Linked DNA regions of Homo sapiens: region 1 is linked to region 2. Evidence: fine-mapped expression QTL. A gene starts in region 2. The other region holds a variant in brackets. All regions are shown on one strand. Distances are from middle to middle. Region 1 overlaps MROH2A (maestro heat like repeat family member 2A). Region 2 holds the start of MROH2A (maestro heat like repeat family member 2A).

What was found.
Region 1: its variant is fine-mapped to the expression of MROH2A in sun-exposed skin (GTEx, PIP 0.98). The same link has a PIP of 0.9 or more in esophagus mucosa.

What each region holds. Positions count from the first base shown.
Region 1 is chr2:233,823,293-233,832,463 of GRCh38, reverse strand. It overlaps MROH2A (maestro heat like repeat family member 2A), which reads right to left. Exons shown (of 42, transcript NM_001394639.1): 35 at 8,800-8,908; 36 at 3,685-3,834; 37 at 3,392-3,574; 38 at 2,689-2,844; 39 at 924-1,055; 40 at 185-287. Among named protein-coding and RNA genes, the nearest start is that of HJURP, 27 kb to the left of the region's middle. RefSeq lists an enhancer at 9,133-9,171. The variant C/T (reference allele first, on the strand shown) is at 3,985.
Region 2 is chr2:233,773,901-233,783,071 of GRCh38, reverse strand. It overlaps MROH2A (maestro heat like repeat family member 2A), which reads right to left and starts at 4,742. Exons shown (of 42, transcript NM_001394639.1): 1 at 4,591-4,742; 2 at 3,620-3,727; 3 at 3,220-3,401. The coding sequence starts at 3,713.

The DNA of each region.
Region 1 (9,171 bases), 49 kb before region 2:
CACGTTGGCAGGGAGGAAGCCAAAATCAAAACGGGATAGAAAGCACAGTGCAGGGCTTAGACCTGAGCTCTGGTCTCAGCTTGCCACATGCCTCCCACTCATGATCCACCCTTCCCCCGAGTGCCGGGGTGGACTAGAGGGCCTTCAAAGTCTATCTTGAGTCAGGAGACGTCTCTCTGCTCACCTGCCAAGTTGCAAGCAGCGATTCTGATTCTTGACAAGTTATTTTTAACATAGGCCATTGTTTCTAGCAAGAAGCGGTAGAGAACAGCCGGCTTTTTCCGAGTCTGCAAAAAGTAAGTGATACACACAGCTTTGGAGGATGAGACCCTGACAATGGGCTGTCATTCATCAAGCGTGTTCCCATCACCAAGATGCATCAGAGAGGGCAAGCGCCCATCCCAGCGTCACACAGCAGGTGAGTAGCTGGCAAGTGAAGGACCACTGGCCACCAGTTATATTTTTCATATCCCATCTGACCAGAGAACCTGTGCTGTCCAACATGGTAGCCACAAGCCATGTGTAACCCTGCAGCACTTCAAGTGTGGCTGGTCTGAATTAAGGTAAAGTGCCCCCTGGGTTTTAAGATGGTACCCCAAAAATTGTAAAATATCACAATAATAGTTTTTATACTGATTACATGTTGAAATGATCATGTTTTAGTTATTTGAGTGAAATAAAATACATGAAAATTAGTTTCACCTCTGCACTTTTCTGGATGTGCCTACTAAAAGAAACATCAGACAGCTGAAATAGGCACATGACTTGCCTTCTATTTCTGCTGCACAGTGCCGGTCTCGACATGGCATGTGTGGAAGGTAAACATAGGGCCCCAAGAAAGAGCTGTGGCAATCTCGACCCCCCAGCTCCAAGCCAGCGTGTGGCCACCTGGGACGGGCTGGTTCCCCCTTTGGCTTCCTCACCAGGATGGAGCACATGGTTGTCTGGAAAACGGTCATCTTGTCATCAGTAGCGGTATCACTTGGCCCTGAGGGATGCTCCAGGGACTTCCAGCCCCAGAAGTGCACACACTGAAACATGGTAGCCATACAGGCCTGCAGGGACACAGGACGGCAGCAGAGCCATCAGCCAGGCCACGTGGTTCCCCAGAGGGGTGAGGCTGGCAGGAAGCCAGAGGGCAGCCCCAGAAAAGCCTCACCAAGCCAAAGAAAGGCAGGGCTGGTGGCTCCTGGGAGGCCACCTGGGACCTGGGCCCCTGCCAGCTTGAACATGGCTGCAGGTACATTTATAGAAAGCCCCTTGGGGGCAGATGCAGCCCCACCCGCCCCCTCAGCCAGCACCTTCGTGCCCTCAGCAGCCCTGCCTGGGACCCAGCCCTCCATGGGATCAGAGGCGGGAGCCGGGCTTGAGCAGGCAAGACTGGGCACGTGTCCTCACCTCCCAGGCCCAGTCCACCAGCATCTGCCTGTGACCAAGCCTGCTGGCCACAGCTTCTGGAGACGGCAGGGCAGGAAGACAAAATGCTTCTGTCTCGGTAGCCCTTTCCTCACTCTCGGTCACCATTGCTGGGTGCACCCTGGTTCCTTCCCTGAAGCCCCCCCACCCCACTGGACAGTTGTCGATAAAACATGGAAGAACAGTGTGGGCTGAAGACAGAGGGTGGTGAGGACTGGCAAGGAAAAGGAGCCTCTGGGCAGTGACACCTTGTGCCCAGGGTGGCCAGGGATGGTGTGGCAGAGGGATGTGGCAAAGTCCAGAAGCTGGGGTGGTGAGTGCAAAGCCCAGGTCTAGGGAGTGTGCATCTCAATCCCCCTCACTGCCTGTAAGGGCCACCTGGGCCATCCCACCTGGGCCACCAGGGCCATCCCACCTGGGCCACCTGGGCCATCCCACCTGGGCCACCCAGGCCATCTGGGCCACCCGCTCCACCCCACCTGGAAACTGCTGCCCTCATAGTGACAGTACTTGTCCTGTGACCCCAGAGCTGGAGTCCAAGGCACCTGCTGAAAATGACCATTGCATTTCTTTCATGTTAGGCCAGCTGCGTCCCAAGGCTTACTAGGCGGGGGCAGAACCTCCCCAAATCAGCCACCTCCCCACTTCCTGACCCCACCCCCCAAGTCTGTAAGCAGAGACTAGGGAGAGAAGAGGGCGGTCAAGGTCATGGGCCATGCAGGGAGTGAGGATCCTGAGGTCCCCAGCCAGCCGGGGTTAGCCTGAGAGGCAGCAACTCAAATGAGAAGGCACATTTACTAACAAATCTGTCTCTCCCTCTCCTCCTGCCCCAAAGCAACAGAGGAGCTGGGCTGTGGAGAGGGAGAAGCCAGGCCCGCTCCCATCCCAACATGGGCCTGCAGGCAGTGGACAAGACCACTTTGGGGTATTTTGAGTCCTAATACTCAAAAGTGACCTGCCAGTTACAGAATCTGCTAGAAGAAAGGGTTTGGGCAGAGGAGGGCTATAGGCAGCCACCACACCATGTCCCCCGACACGGGGCTGAGACTGCTTAGTGAGGTGGCTTTGCAGGTCATCTCGGATGGCCTCTCTCCTCAGCCTGTGTGAGGGATGGAGGACAGCAGGGAGCAGGCTGTGGCCTCTGGGATCTCAGAGAAAACCAACTGAGGCAGAGAAAAGCTTGCAGCTCACCGAGCCAGCAGACCCAAGGACCTGTTTCCTCGGGGAACAGCGGGCCCCAGACTGGGACACAAAGCCCAGGATGTATCTTACTTGGGCTGCATTGGAGCAGGGGTCCTGGGAGTGCAGCATGAGGGGGATCCAGGCCTTCTTCACCTCCCCTTTGAAGAAATGCTTCTTGGACATCCCGACCACCCTTGCCAGCTTTCCAAAGAGGATGAAGGCTTTCAGACGCAGCAGCTCGCTCTCCTGTGGCCAGGATGGACACAGGCTGACATGCAGGCAGCAGGAAGCCCAGCAAAACCCCAGCCATTCTCCAAGGAATACCCAATGCCTTGGTCCCTGCAGAGCCTTCTGGATCATTCCGTCAGGGTGTAGTCTCTCCTTTGGCAGGGATCACGTAGCCCTCAAGGGGCTGGGCATTGCTCTGGTCTTTGTGCCCGCCTCTTCCCTGGGTGAGGGCTTGTGCAGGATCTGAGTGCACAGCCCTGCCTAGCAGAGGCCCAGGGTGACACAGGTGCCCTGGGGGTATTTGTAGCTGCAAGGAATAAAAGGGGGAGACCCTTCCCTCCTAGCAGGGCTGCAGAGGCCCAGGAGCCGTCACTTGACAGCACTGATTCTCTGGAACTTAGAAGAATACCTTTTACTTCACAAGATCCCGTGATCAGCCAGTCGCTAAACTGACACCCAGCAGGAGCCTCGGCTCTTTTCTGCTCTAGAGCCCATCTCTTCCTTAGGGTCTGAGAAGTGCCCCTCCTTCACTGAGCAAGCTCAGGGAGGCTCTCATCGGACTCACGTTGTCGAAGAAGATCCTGCACTGCTCAGACATGGCGTCGAAAGAGGACCCCACATCCCCTTCCCGGAGCTCAGCCAGGATCTTGGTCAGGGCCTCCATGCCCTCGGCAGTCACGCTGTTGCTCACGGGCTCCCTCAGGGGGCCCAGGCACTTCTCCAGCAAGACCTTCCGGTACTGCTTCACCTGGAGGGGCATGGGCAGCCCTCAGCCTGCACCCTCCCTCCCAGGCTGACCAGGGCACCCGGCCTGCACCCTCAGCTCCCGGGACCTGGGCCCAGGGCCAGGCACAGTACCTTCTTGGGGGCGCCCAGGGCCATGTTGCCGAGGGCGCGCAGGGACAGCACCCGCAGGGCCTCGTCTTCCTCCTGGTCGGCACCCTTCTCCAGCAGCAAAGCTGCCGGCTTCAGCAGCTTCTCCTGGTACAGAACTGGGCCGCTCATGAACTGGAAGGGAGGACATTGGGCAGTTATCCCCAGGGCGGGCTCATTTCTCAGCAGCAAGGTGGGACGTGGGAGGAGAGGTAATGCAGATTGGTGGCTCTGTGGACAGGAGGGGAGGGGCTCTGAGAGCCTCCGTTTCCTCTCTATAAAAAG[C/T]GGGTGATGCTAGTACCTGCCTCAGGGTCTGTGTGGGGATTTAATAAGGAAATATGGGGGGAATGCTAGATAAGTGTTACGTATATATATAAATTCGTCATTTATTTTTTCAGGTAACATAACAGCCACTGCCAAATGCAAGAGCCACGCCCACCTGCATCTGAACAGAAAGGCACAAAAAACATGAATTTCACTTTCAGGAGAATTACTAATGGCCTAGTATTCTGAGTGCCAAAACCTCACTGGTATGCGTGTGGGTGCATGCATGTGTGTACATGTGTGTACATGTGTGCATGCAAGTACCTGAGTATGTTTGAAAGAGGCCTGAAAACTAAACACCAAATTGGTGAGTCCAGGGACAGGAGAAATGAGCATCTATTGACTATCCCCACATCTAGTTCCTTAAACCCCCATTAGGCGCAGTTGCTCTAAGCTTCCAAATGTTTTGTCTCCACCTCAGTCCACCTCCAGCCTGTCCCAGACACCAACATCAGCAATCACAGGAGCTTCCTACAGCACTTCCATTCATTTAAACATATACTGAGCACCTATTCAGGGCCAGGTAGAGCAGTGAATACAACGATCACAACCTATTTTAAATGCTCTTCAGGGAAAATTCCTGAAGAGTAAAGCCCCCACACTATTGTCAGCAAGCATTAAAAAAAAATCATTTATAATCCATCCCTATCAAATTTGAAGAATTTAAATAGCTTGCTTCTTAAACCTGAACCTAATTTTTTTTTTAATTTTTATTTTTAGTTCTGGGGTACATGTGCAGGAAGTGCAAGCTTGTTACATAGGTAGACGTGTGTCATAGTGGTTTGCTGCACCTATCGACCCATCACCGAGTTATTAAGCCCAGCATGCATTAGCTGTTTTTCCTAATACTCTCTCTTCCCCCACCCCACTCCCAACAGGCCCAGTGTGTGTTGGTCCTCTCCCTGTGTCCATGTGATCTCATTGTTCAGCTCCCACTTATAAGTGAGAACATGTGGTGTTTGGTTTCTGTTCCTGTATTAGTTTGCTGAGGATAATGACTTCCAGCTTCATCCATGTCCCTGCAAAGGACATGATCTCATTCCTTTTTATGGCTGCATAGTATTCCATGGTGTATATGTACCTCATTTTCTTTATCCAGTGTATCATTGATGGGCATTTGGGTTGATTCCATGTCTTTGTTATTGTGAATAGTGCTACAATGAACATACACATGCATATATCTTTGTAATAGAATGATTATATTCCTTTGGGTATATGCCCAGTAATGGGATTGCTGGGTCAGATGGTATTTTTGGTTCTAGATCTTTGAGGAATCACCACACCGTCTTCCACAATGGTTGAACTAATTTACATTCCCACCAACAGTGTAAAAGTGTTCCTATTTCTCTGCAACCTTGCCAGCATCTGTTGTTTCTTGACTTTTTAATAATGGCCATTCTGACTGGCATGATATGGTATCTCCTTGTGGTTTTGATTTGCATTTACCTAATGATCAGTGATATTTAGCTTTTTTTCATATGTTTATTCGCTGCATGAGTGTCTTCTTTGAGAAGGGTCTGTTCATGTCCTTTGCCCACTTTCTAATAGGATTGTTTGTTTTTTTCTTGTAAATTTGTTTGAGTTCCTTGTAGATTCTGGATATTAGACCTTTTTTGAATGGATAAATTGCAAAGATTTTCTTCAACTCTGTAGGTTGCCTGTTCACTCTGATGATAGTCTCTTTTGCTGTGCAGAAGCTCCTTAGTTTAATTAGATCCCAATTGTCAATTTTTGCTTTTGTTGCAATTGCTGTTGGTGATTTTATCATGAAATGTTTGTCCATGCCCATGTCCTGAATGGTATTGCCTAGATTTTCTTCTAGGGTTTTTATAGTTTTGGGTTTTACATTTAAGTCTTTAATCCATCTTGAGTTAATTTTTGCATAATGTGTGAGAAAGGGGTCCAGTTTCAATTTTCTGCAAATGGATAGCCAGTTCTCCCAGCACTATTTTTTAAATATGGAATCCTTTCCCCATTGCTTGTTTTTGTCAGGTTTGTCCAAGATCAGTTGCCTGTAGATGTGCCATCTTATTTCTGAGTTCTCTATTCTGTTCCATTGGTCTGTGTATCTGTTTTTGTACCAGTACCATGCTGTTTTGGTTACTGTAGCCTTATAGTATAGTTTGAAGTCCAGTAGGGTGATGCCTCCAGCTTTGTTCTTTTTGCTTAGAATTGTCTTGGCTATACAGGCTGAATTCTACAAGAAATACAAAGAGGTGGTCGGGCGTGGTGGCTCACGCCTGTAATCCCAGCACTTTGGGAGGCCGAGGCGGGCAAATCACAAGGTCAAGAGATCGAGACCATCCTGGCCAACATGGTGAAACCCTATCTCTACTAAAAATACAAAAATTAGCTGGGTGTGGTGGCACATGCCTACAGTCCCAGCTACTCGAAAGGCTGAGGCAGGAGAATTGCTTGAACCCGGGAGGTGGAGGTTGCAGTGAGCTGAGATCACGCCATTGCACTCCAGCCTGGCGACAGAGCAAGACCCTGTCTCAAAAAAAAAAAAAAAAAAAAAAGGAAAAAGAAACACAAAGAGGTGTTTATACCATTTCTTCTGAAACTATTCCAAACCATTGAAAAGGAAGGACACCTCCCTAACTCATTCTATGAGGTCAGCATCATCCTGATACCAAAACCAGGCAGAGATACAACAAAAAAAAGAAAACTTCAGGCCAATATCCCTGATGAACATCGATGCAAAAATTCTCAATAAAATACTGGCAAACTGAATCCAGCAGCATATCAAAAAGCTCATCCACCACGATCAAGTAGCCTTCATTCCCAGGATGCAAGGCTAGTTCAACATATGTAAATCAATAAACGTAATTCATCACATAAACAGACCTAAAGACAAAACCACATGATTATCTCAATAGGTGCAGAAAAGGCCTTCAATAAAATTCAACATCCCTTCATGTTAAAAACTCCCAACAAACTAGGTATTGAAGTACCTCAAAATAATAAGAGCCATTTATGACAAACCCACAACCAATATCATACTGAATGGGCAAAAGCCGGAAGCATTCCCTTTGAAAATCGGCACAAGACAAGGATGCCCTCTCTCACCACTCCTACTCAACATAGTATTGGAAGTTCCGGCCAGGGCAATCAGGCAAGAGAAAGAAATAAAGCGTATTCAAATAGGAAGGGAGGAAGTAAAAATGTCTTTGTTTGCAGATGACATGATCCTATATCTAGAAAACCCCATTGTCTCAGCCCAAAAACTTCTTAAGCTGATAAACAACTTCAACAAAGTCTCAGGATACAAAATCAATCTGCAGAAGTCACAAGCATTCCTACACACTAACAACAGGCAAGCAGAGAGCCAAATCATGAACTCCCATTCACAATTGCTACAAAGAGAATAAAATACCTAGGAATATAGTTAACAAGGGAAGTGAGGGGCCTCTTCAAAGGAGAACTACAAACCTCTGCTCAAAGAAACCAGAGAGTACACAAACAAATGGAAAAATATTCCATGCTCATGGATAGGAAGAATCAGTATCATGCAAATGACCATACTGCCCAAAGTAATGTATAGATTCAATGCTATTCCCATTAAACTACCATTGACATTCTTCACAGAATTAGAAAAAAATTATTTTAAAATTCATATGGAACCAAAAAAGCTGAACCTAATTTTTAAACTGCCATAATTAGCTAGCATTTAATGAGCACTTACCTCCCAAGCAAGCAATGCATACACGGTCTATCTCATTTAGCTCTCACCAAAGCCCTGAAAAGAAGGCACTGCTTTCCCCAGTTGGGCAGATGGAGAGCTTGAAGCTCAGAGACGCTAAGTAACTTCATCTCCAGCCAATCAGCAACTGAGCGGAGGCTCTTAACCAGGCCCTCGGATTCCAGCACCTGCGCCTGGCCCTGTGTGGCTTCCAGCCGCTGAAAATTCCAAACTCAGGCACATCAAAGGACAGGTCCTGGGTGAGACAACGAGGGAGCACTTCTCCTTCCCATCCTCATTTTGAAGATTTACAGAGGCCTGAACACAGGGAGGGGCCTGAAGAACCTATAAAAGCTTGGTGAGTACCTCCCAGACTGGTCTTGTACTTCCAGGAGCTTTTGTACAGCCCACTGCCAAAACTCATTTTCCCATTTTTAAGTGTTGGGGAAAAGAAATATAGAAAAGAAAATTCTATGGCACATGAAAATTCCATGAAGTTTAAATTCCAGTGTCCATCAATAAGGTTTTGTTGACACCGTCATGCCCACTGGTTGACTTATTGGCTGTGGCTGTTTTCCTGCTACAGCTTAGTTGGCCACAAAGCCAAAAATTTACTCTGCAGTCCTTTACAGAAAACACTGGCCGGCCTCTGGCCTGGGCTGTGGTTGGTTCCTAGGGTGCATTGGGCATCATTGCCCTCAGGACGCTCCAACACTCACTCTGAGATAGGGTCGCTGGGCCCTGCCTTCCCACCTAGCAAAGCCCCTCGGCCTCTCTGAGTCCTCCTGCAGGAAGCCTGCCCCAGCGAGAACCCAGGTGCCCTCCCTGGGTCCCCTGGGTCACTGTACTTGCCTGGGTCACACATCAGTTAACTGCAATGCTGCAGGGCTCAGCCTGTCTTTCCAGCAGGGCCTGCCCTGCACTACTCATGTGATGAATGAATGAAGGAGCAGATGAGAGAATGAGCACTCAGAGGAGGGGCGCTCGCCTGTCCCCCCGACTCCCATGCCTTGGAGACAAGCCATCCCCAGAAGAATCCAGGGACCCCATCCCCTCCGCTTGCACCCCGCCCACACCCGGTGCCTCATTTCCACGCAGACCGCTGTGCTGCTGATGCGGCAGCTCAGGACTTCTGAGTCCATGCCCCTGAGCACCAGCTCGGCCAGCCTCTGCCTGTGGCCCTCCACGTGCTGCATGCACAGCCTGCAGAGGAGAGACAGTGCCAGGTCGTGGAGGCGGCCCCACCCCTGCCTGACGTTTGCCAAGAGCTGGGCAGGGCCACATCGGTGCCTGGACCCTGGTGGCAAGATAACCCCGGAAAGATGTCGTAACATCTCTGGGTTTCTCCCTCCTCTTCCTGGGGACTTGGTTGAGGTTGTCAGTGAATCAGTCAATGTCTATCTCCTTTTTACAAAGGGGACTAGAGTGAGGGCGGCTCCGGAGTGACTAGGACCCCAGAAGTAACT
Region 2 (9,171 bases):
AAGTGGGATTCATCCCAAGGATGTAAGGATGGTCCAATACACACAAATCAATAAATGTGATACATCACATTAACAGAGCCAAGAACAACAATCATATGATCATTTCAATATATGCTAAAAAAAGTATTTGATAAATTCAGCAGCCCTTTATGATTTTTTAAAAACTCAACAAGCTGGGCATAGAAAGAGCATACCTCACGATAATAAAAGCCATATATGACAAACCCACAGCTAACATTGTACCAGATGGAAGAAATCGAAAGCCTTGTTCCTAAAATCTGGAACAAGATAAAAATGCCCACTTTTACCACTGCTCTTCAACATAATACTGGAAGTCCTGGCCAGAGCAGTTAGGCAAGAGAAAGAAACAAAGGGCATACAAAATAGAAAGGAAGAAGTCAAATTATCCTTGTTCACAGATGACACGATCTCATACTAGAAAAATACAAAGACTCCATCCAAAAACTGTTAGAACTGATAAATAAATTTAGTTAAGTTGCAGATTACAAAATTAACATACAAAAATCAGTAACATTAGTATATGCCAAATGGCAAACAACAGAACACTTCACCCATTTTGAAAAAGAAACCAAGAAATCCATTTCATTTACAATAGCCACAAAAATATAAAATACCTAGGAATAAATTTAACCAAAGAAGTGAAAGATCTATGCAAGGGAAACTATAAAACACTGATGAAAAGAATTGAAGAAGACACCAAAAAATGGAAAGCTATTTCATGCTCACTGATAGAAAAATTAATATTATCAAAATACTACCAGAAGCAATTTAGAGATTCATTGAAATCTCTATCAAAATACCAATGACATTCTTTACAGACAATTTTTACATGGAACCATAAGACTCCAAACAGACAAACCAATCCTGAGCAAAAAGAGTAAAGCTGGAGGCATCATACTACCTGATTTCAAAATATACTTTAAAGCCATAGTAACCAAAATAGCATGGTACTGGCATAAAAACATGCACATAGACCAATGGAACAGAATAGAGAGCCCAGATGTCAATCCATGCATTTACAGTCAACTCATTTTTGACAAAGGTGCTAGGCACATATAATGGTGAAAGGACAGTCTCTTCAATAAATGGTGCTGGGAAAACTGGATAACCATATGCAGAAGAATGAAACTAAACCCCTATCTCTCACCATATGCAAAAATCAAATCAAAATGGATTAAAGACTTAAATCCAAGACCTGAAACTATGAAACTACTAGAAAATAATCATTGGGGAAATGCTCCAGGAAATTGGTTTGTGCAAAGATTTTTTGTGTGAGACCTCAAAAGCACAGGCAACAAAAGCAAAAATAGACAAATGGGATTATGTCAAGCAAAAAACTTATGCACAGCAAAGGAAACAGTGAACAAAGCGAAGAGACAACCCACAGAATAGGAGAATATCTCTCCATCCTACAAGGGATTAATAACCAGAATACACAAGGAGCTCAAACAACTCAATAGCAAAAAAATCAAATTTAAAAATGGGCAAAAGATCTGAACAGACATTTCTCAAAAGAAGGCATACAAGTGGCCAACAGGGATATAAAAAAATGCTCAACCTCACTAATCATCAGAGAAATGCAAATCAAAACCACAATGAGATATTATCTCACTCCAGTTAAAAAGACTTTTATCCAAAATATAGAAAATAACAGATGCTAGCAAGGATGTGGAGAAAGGGGAAACCTCACACATTGTTGGTAAGACTATAAATTAGTACAGCCATTATGGAAAACTCTATGGAGGTTTCTCAAAAAAAGTAAAACTAGATTTACCGTATGATCCAGCAATTCTACTACTGGGTGTGTATCCAAAAGAAAGGAAGTCAATATATCTAAGAGATAGCTGCATTTTCATGTTTATTGCAGTACTATTCACAATAGCCAAGATATGGAATCAACGTAAGTACCCATCAATGTATGAAGGGATAAAGAAAATGTGGTATACACAGACAACGGAATATTATTCAACCATAAAAAAAAGAAACCCTGTCATTTACCGTAACATGAATAAAACTGGAGGACATTATGTCAAGTGAAATGAGTCAGGCACAGATAGATAAATACCACATGTTCTCACTCATATATGGGAGCTATAAAAATGGTGAGCTCATAGAAGTCAAGAGTAGAATTTCGGTATTAGGGTATGGGAAAGGTAAGGGCAGGGGAGGATAGGGAGAAGTTGATTAAAAGATACAAAATTACAGCTGGAGAGAAGGAATAAGCTCTTGTGTTCTATAGCACTGTAGGTTGTGAATATAGTCAACAATGATTGATTGTATATTTTCAAAAAACTAGAAGAAACAGTTTTGAATGCTTGCAACACAAAGAAATGATAAATGTTTGCAGTGTTGGATATACTAATTACCCTGATTCGGTCATTACACATTGTATATATGTTTTGAAATATCACTTTGTATTCTATAAATATGTACAATTGTTATGTGTCAACTAAAAATAAAAGGGGGAAAACGCAAATGCAAATCCAAATCCAACAAAAATAATAAAACTTTTTATAAATAAGCTCCTCTGCTCATAGCACCCCTTTGCTACCCACTCCAAGACAAAAGGGTAGTCTAAAATCCAACAGTTCTCAAAGTAGGCTCTCCAGATCAGCCTTGGCATCACCTGGGAACTTGTTAGAAATGCTGATTCTCAGGCTCCACCCCAGACTTACTGAATCAGAAACTCTGGGGGTGGTGCCCAGCAAGGTTTGGATCAGCTCTGTTCCAAACCCTTGTCTAGTCCAAAACCTTGTCTGGTACCACGTGATGCAAACCTTGTCTGTACAAGCCCACCAGGTCCCCTGGTTGCACTTTGTATCACTCCCTCCAACATCCTCTACCCCAGCCCCTTAACCCAGCTAGGCATCTCCCCACTAGCCAAACATCCCTGCACACTGTGTCTGGTGTATCTTTACTCTCCCATGCCCACTGGCTCAACATCTTTGCAACTCAGCTCATGTGCTGTAGGACAATGGCTCCCAAACCCACTGTGTCAGAAGACAAGGGAACTTTTAAAAATTATGAACATCTCAGGTCCCAATTGGTCCTCAGGGAGTAAGCACCTCACAGTCTTGCCCATCTCTGTATCCCAGTACCACACATCACATCTCTGATAGTCAGTAACTATGTGCTGGGTGGTGGATGGATGCACACAGAGCTAAAGGTGGCTGAGCCCAGTGGGTAAGATGGCCCTACCTCTGGCACCTGCAGGCAGCGGATGAGAGTGTTTATCACTACAGAAGGCTCAGTGGTGGCCTTCTCCATGATTATCACCGAGGCCAGGGTCTTCCGCATGTCAAGGCCTGCCCCTGTTGTGTCCGTCTTTGCTGACTCGCTGTCAATGATGTCCAGAAGGTTCACGACTTGTTGAAAGGTACCTATGAAAACAAACGCCACCCAGGTGCAGTGTGGAAATGACCATGACAGGAGGTGCCCTTGTGTCCCTGGCCTTGCCTCCACCTGCGCAGCTCCAGCTTCATGTGTGGTATGATGTCCACTGTGCAGATGGAGAAAGGGAGACCTAGGCTGGGGCTGCAGTCAAAGAGTTAGTGTCTGAGATGGGGCAGGAAAGCAGAAATGTGGATGACATTCTTACCACTGTCATGTAATTCAAGAGGCCCCAGGTCGTCTCTTTCCTCTGACACCTCCTCACTTGAGGCTACTGCTGCTTCTGTAATGGCTTCAGTCATCTCTTCCTCAAGCTCTTTTGAGATCAACAGAATTTGTAAAATACGGGGTGTGACACACACCTTAAGATGACCCCAACGACCCACACCCTTCCATAAAGCCATCCCCTTGAGGGTGTGTGGGTGGAACCTGTGACTTCCTTCTAATCAACAGAATATGGCAAAGGTGATGGGTGACCCTCTCTCGAGTGGATTACATCATATGGCAAAGATGGTGGGATGTCATTCCCATGATCACACTATGCCACATGAGATTCCCTCTTATCAGATTGAACAGAAACATTCTACTGGCCTTGAAAAGTAAACAGCCATGATGCAAACTGCCTGTGGTGAGGGCCACGTAGCAAGGAACTGAGGGCCTCAGTCCTACAACCATAAGAAACTGAATTCTCCAATAAGCACATGAGCTTGGAAGAGGAAGCTGAACTCCAGAAAGGACTGCAGTCTCTGAGACCCTAAACAAAGGACCAAGGAAAGCCATGCCTAGACTCCTGGCCAGTGGAACCGTGAGATAATCAATGGATGTTCTTTTAAGCCACTGAGTTTATGATAATTTGTTACACAGCAATAGATAATATCCTTAGTTTAATAGAGCCCTCTCGCCCTCTCTTCTACACACTGATAATTAATGGCTAATGAGAAATTCATATCAGTATCTCTCATAACTCCTTTAAGGGGTTCTCTCAACATCCACAGCTTCTTAAAAATTGAGAAACACCAACATAGATGTCGAGATGGTGGAAGAAAGGCTCTCAGATCCTTTCTCCTCCTGTCCCAAGTTCCTTGATCCTCAAAGATCCATCCCATGGCCCTTTACTATCCCATACTCTCTTTTCCTTTAAAGGATTTTAAAGAGCTACTCTGGGACCTAAATACTGACCTTTCCTTAGGGTCTTCTTCTGGATTAAACAGATATTAACCACAAGAAAAAGCTCTGCTCTTGGCCCAATACACATCAATGGAAATGCAAATGGAAGAATTGGTTATCAAAGTGAGACAGCTGGGCTCTTCAGTCATATTTCTTATAGGAATGGGTCTCCTGGAAGGGTGGGAGGGTTTCACTAGAACTATCACCGTTAGATCCCAGACCCTCGGAACTTTGAGATCCAACTGCCTCCCTGAGTCTCTATCAACCCAGGTCTTTGAAGAGTGCACAGGGCTCTGGGGTGAAAACTCCACATCATGTTGTCATTCAACATTTCTGTTATTCACATGTGTGTGCTGAAGTACAGGGGCCTGTTTGGGAAAGGGAGATGGTAGAAGTGGGGATGGCTTACAACCAAGTCCCAGGGGAACACAGTCATGTGAGCCCTGGGTGGGGAGGTGTGGTCAGGACAGTTGGAGAGGAGAGGAGGGGCAGACTGAGAGGCCCTGGGGAGAGCACTCCTCCTTCCCGGGGACTGGATGACTTGCAGGATAAGAAATTGGATTTCCACTAGCACAATACTTACAAGATAAAGAACATCAAAGACAGGTAGGAGAGGAGGCACCCTGATTTCCTAAACCAAAAGTGGAGCCCAAAGGATTTCCCTGTCATTTATAGCTAGGAGAGATGATCCAGATCATAGGTACAACAATGAAATATTGGCCTTTGGGAAATCTTTCTATGCACTGCAAGACAACAGGAACAAAACTCAGAGACATCTAGGGCCAAGGTTGCTTAAGTGGAATTTCCACTCCAAGTTTGCCCATCCAGCCAAATGGGAGTTCCTCAGCCTGTGCTTGGACACCTCCAATACGAGGGAGCTCATTACTCTCAGGACCAGCCTCTTTCTACTTCATGGAATTCAGATGGTTAGAAAATGAGCTTTCTTATCATGCCCAACATTTCTTCCTCATAAAATTCCTGCGTTATTCCTTGTTCTGCACTTGGAGATACATTGATCAACATGAAATAGACACAAGCAGCTATCCCATGCCCCTTCTTTCACAGGACTGCCCCTCTGCACTACCTCCTCCCACTCCCCACTGAGCCTTCTTTTCCGTTTGAAAGATCACTGAGGTGATGTGGTTGCCAAGTCCATTCCACAGGCCCAGACTGCACGCCTACTGTGTGCAGCTAAGCATGGCTTTCCATGCTGCAGTGGATATAGGGTAGGTGGAACACATCTCTGTCCTCTGAAGGTCTTCAGACTCAACACATGAAAAGTGATACATTTAGAGCCAGAAGTGAATGTGTCAGCAATTGCTGTGTAACAAACCACCTCAAAACTTAATGACTGAAAACAACCGATTATTATAGTTCACAAGTGTATGAGTCACCTGCGTGGGTCTGTGGATCTGTGCTCTGTCCAGCCAAGCACAACTAGAGTCTCACCCATGTATCTCAGACAGCTAGAGGGCTGGCCATTGGCTCGCTATTGGCTGAAATGACTAGGGTGATGGGGACATTGTGCAGCAGGGCTCACCCAGGCTGTTCTCATAGCAGCTGGACAGGGTTCTGAGACAGTGAGCGGGAATATGAAGGCTTCTTGAGGCCTAGACTTGAAACCAGTGCTCATCACCTGCCACACTCTGTCAGCCAGGGCAGGTCACAGGCCAGCCAGGACCCACAGGCTGGAGAAATAGATTCCTCCTTTTCATGAGAAGAGTTGCAAAGTCACATTGTGAAGGATATGGCAATCAGGAGGAGTGGAGAAAGGGGTCATTTTTAAATTACACACAGGTCGAGTGTGTAAGCCATGGCCAAAAGTAAGAGGCCCCTGAGCATGTTATCTACAGAGGACATGAAGACAGTGAGACCAAGGAGGAAGAAGGGGGCTCTGCTTGGCTTTCCAAATTGAAAATACTTTTTTTCATGGGGAAACGCTGTCTCTACTAAAAAATACAAAAATTAGCCGGGTGTGGTGGGGTGGCATGTGCCTGTAATCCCAGCTACTCAGGAGGGTGAGGTAGGAAGAATCACTTGAACCCAGGAGGCGGAGGTTGCAGTGAGCCAAGATCACACCACTGCACTCCAGCCTGGGCAACAGAGTGAGACTCCGTCTCAAAAAAAAAAAAAAAAAAAGTAAATACATTTTTTTCTGATTATGACAACAATATTGAACTCACAATCCACTCACAAAATCAGCTTCTCTTAGGTGCTGTCACTCTATGGCACGTTGCACCACTACTTCTATGGGAACTACCCAGGAAATAAGAAAACGCTTTATTCGTAGCATCCTGTGAGCTTAAATACACAAAAGGCCCAAGACATAATGTGGGAAAATGGAAATATTGTGCAGAAGCTGACTGTATTAGTCCATTTTCATACTGCTATGAAGAAATACCCAGGACTGGGTAATTTATAAAGAAAAAGAGGTTTCATGGACTCACAGTTCCACATGGCTGGGGAGGCCTCACAATCATGGCAGAAGGTGAAGGAGGAGCAAGGGCACATCTTACATGGTGGCAGGCAAGAGGAAGTATGAGCAAGAGGGGGAAAAGCCCCCTATAAAACCATCAGATCTTGTGAGAACTCACTATCACACAAATAGCATGGAGATAACTGCCCCCATAATTCAAATCACTTCCCACCAGGTCCCTCTAATGACACATGGGGGTAATGGGAATTACAATTCAAGATGAGATTTGGGTGGGGACACAGCCAAACCATATGACTCACCCAGAGGCAGTCTCTACAGGGTGGATTCTGCCCGGCTCACAAGGTTCCCTCTCCCGTGGCCCAAGCAGCCACAGCAATGGGATGGTGGGAGCCATGTTTTTCTCTCCGTAATCCCTCTCGGCATTGATGATTGGACAGGGAGAGGACACCTGATCCAGCTGGACCAATCAGATTCTGACTTTCAGGAAGGTGGCACTCCAGGCCAGAGAGAATCCAGTCTGTCTCTTGTGGGATCTTGGGAGCTAGGGCAGAGGAATATGGGGACTGAGGGGCCGAAAAGACCCGGAGGAGAGGGAAGAGGAAAGCTGGCACTCTGACCCAACAGGGACAGGAGTGAGAAGGGGAGGCTCCACCCAGCGCAGGCCTGGCTATGAGCCTCGCGTCGTCAGAAGCCTGTCTCCTTACAAAAATACTGTTTATGCTTAAGGTATCCCGAGTTGGGTTCTCTCACTTGTAAACAAGAGTGCCTCAGTGCTGCAGACACGAAGGTGCAAATGAACATGAGCTGGCTGGAGGTCATGGCAACTTGGGGTCCCTGAGAGAGGTTGGGGCGTCAAGGAGCTAGGGGCAGTGAGGCCGGGAGATGGTCCCCGGGTGGACCAGGAAGGGCTTTGAAGGAGGGTGAACGTAGTTGAGGGGTGACTGCACAGCCTCAAGGATGTAGAGAGGGAAATAGTGGACAGAATGTGTTCCAGCCACTGCCTAGGGAAGGAGATGGAGCTGGGGTCAGGGAACCAGCTGAAATCTTCGCTCTGCACCACCCCAGCTCCAATTTGAAGCTTACAAATTTAAAACTTCTGCTTGTAATACAAAACAAAAAAAGTAAAACAAGGCAAAAAAAAAAAAGTAGAGAAAATACAGTAAATGACAAAAAGGACATTCTGGTGAATGCAATAAGCACTCTTACCAAATCCTCAGGGTAATACACTCCAATAGGAAAGTGGGCAAAGGGTATCCTCCAAAAAATAAACACAGACGGCTCATCAGCTTGAAAAGAAATACAATCTCTAATAATAACAATAATAAAAGCACATTGTAAACAAGATCCTGCTTTTCTCCTATCAAACTGACAGGCTTTCTTTTTCAAGATAGTACTTTGTGCTAATGAGGGTGTGGGAACCTGTCTCCCTCACACGCTGATAGTAAGTTTGGGGATGCAGTGTGGGGATTTCTTAAGCTATTTGTCCAGGGTAGCAGTGCAGGTGGTGCCCCACACAGATCCCCTGTGTACCTCTTCAGTGACAAGGGCGTGTGTTTTTTCTCGTCAGCTCTCTCTGTCAGAGCCCCCTTTGTGGCCTAATGGAAGGGCAGAGAAATTACTACTACCTGGGAGTACGTTTCAATCCCTGACGAGGCAAGTACTCAGGCACCCAACAGCCGTGTTCCTCATTGGGATAAGTCTGGGGTGTCTTTTCTCCACTGGCTCCCAGAGTCACCCAGCAGGATTAAGCTCCGATTGACCACAAGAGAGCCAGCTGTGGATGACCATCACCCCTTCTCACTCTGCCACTCCTCTATCAGTGTTTCCTTTACTTCCTAAATAAACTCCTGGCCCTTGAATCCTCATCTCAGGGGAACCCAGACTGAGACAACTAGCAATTTGTTGTAAAGCACTTTCCAACAGAAGTAATCATGAATATGTGGAAAGCCTTAGCTACTAGGATGTCCAGTGAGATTTTTGTTGTTGTTGTTGTTGTTGTTTTGTTGTTGTTGTTGTTTTTGAGACAGAGTCTGGCTGTGTCACCCAGGCTGGAATGCAGTGGCATGATCCGGACTCACTGCAACCTCCGACCTCCGAACCCCCTGACCCCGGTTCAAGCAATTCTCCTGCCTCAGCCTCCCAATTAGCTGGAATTA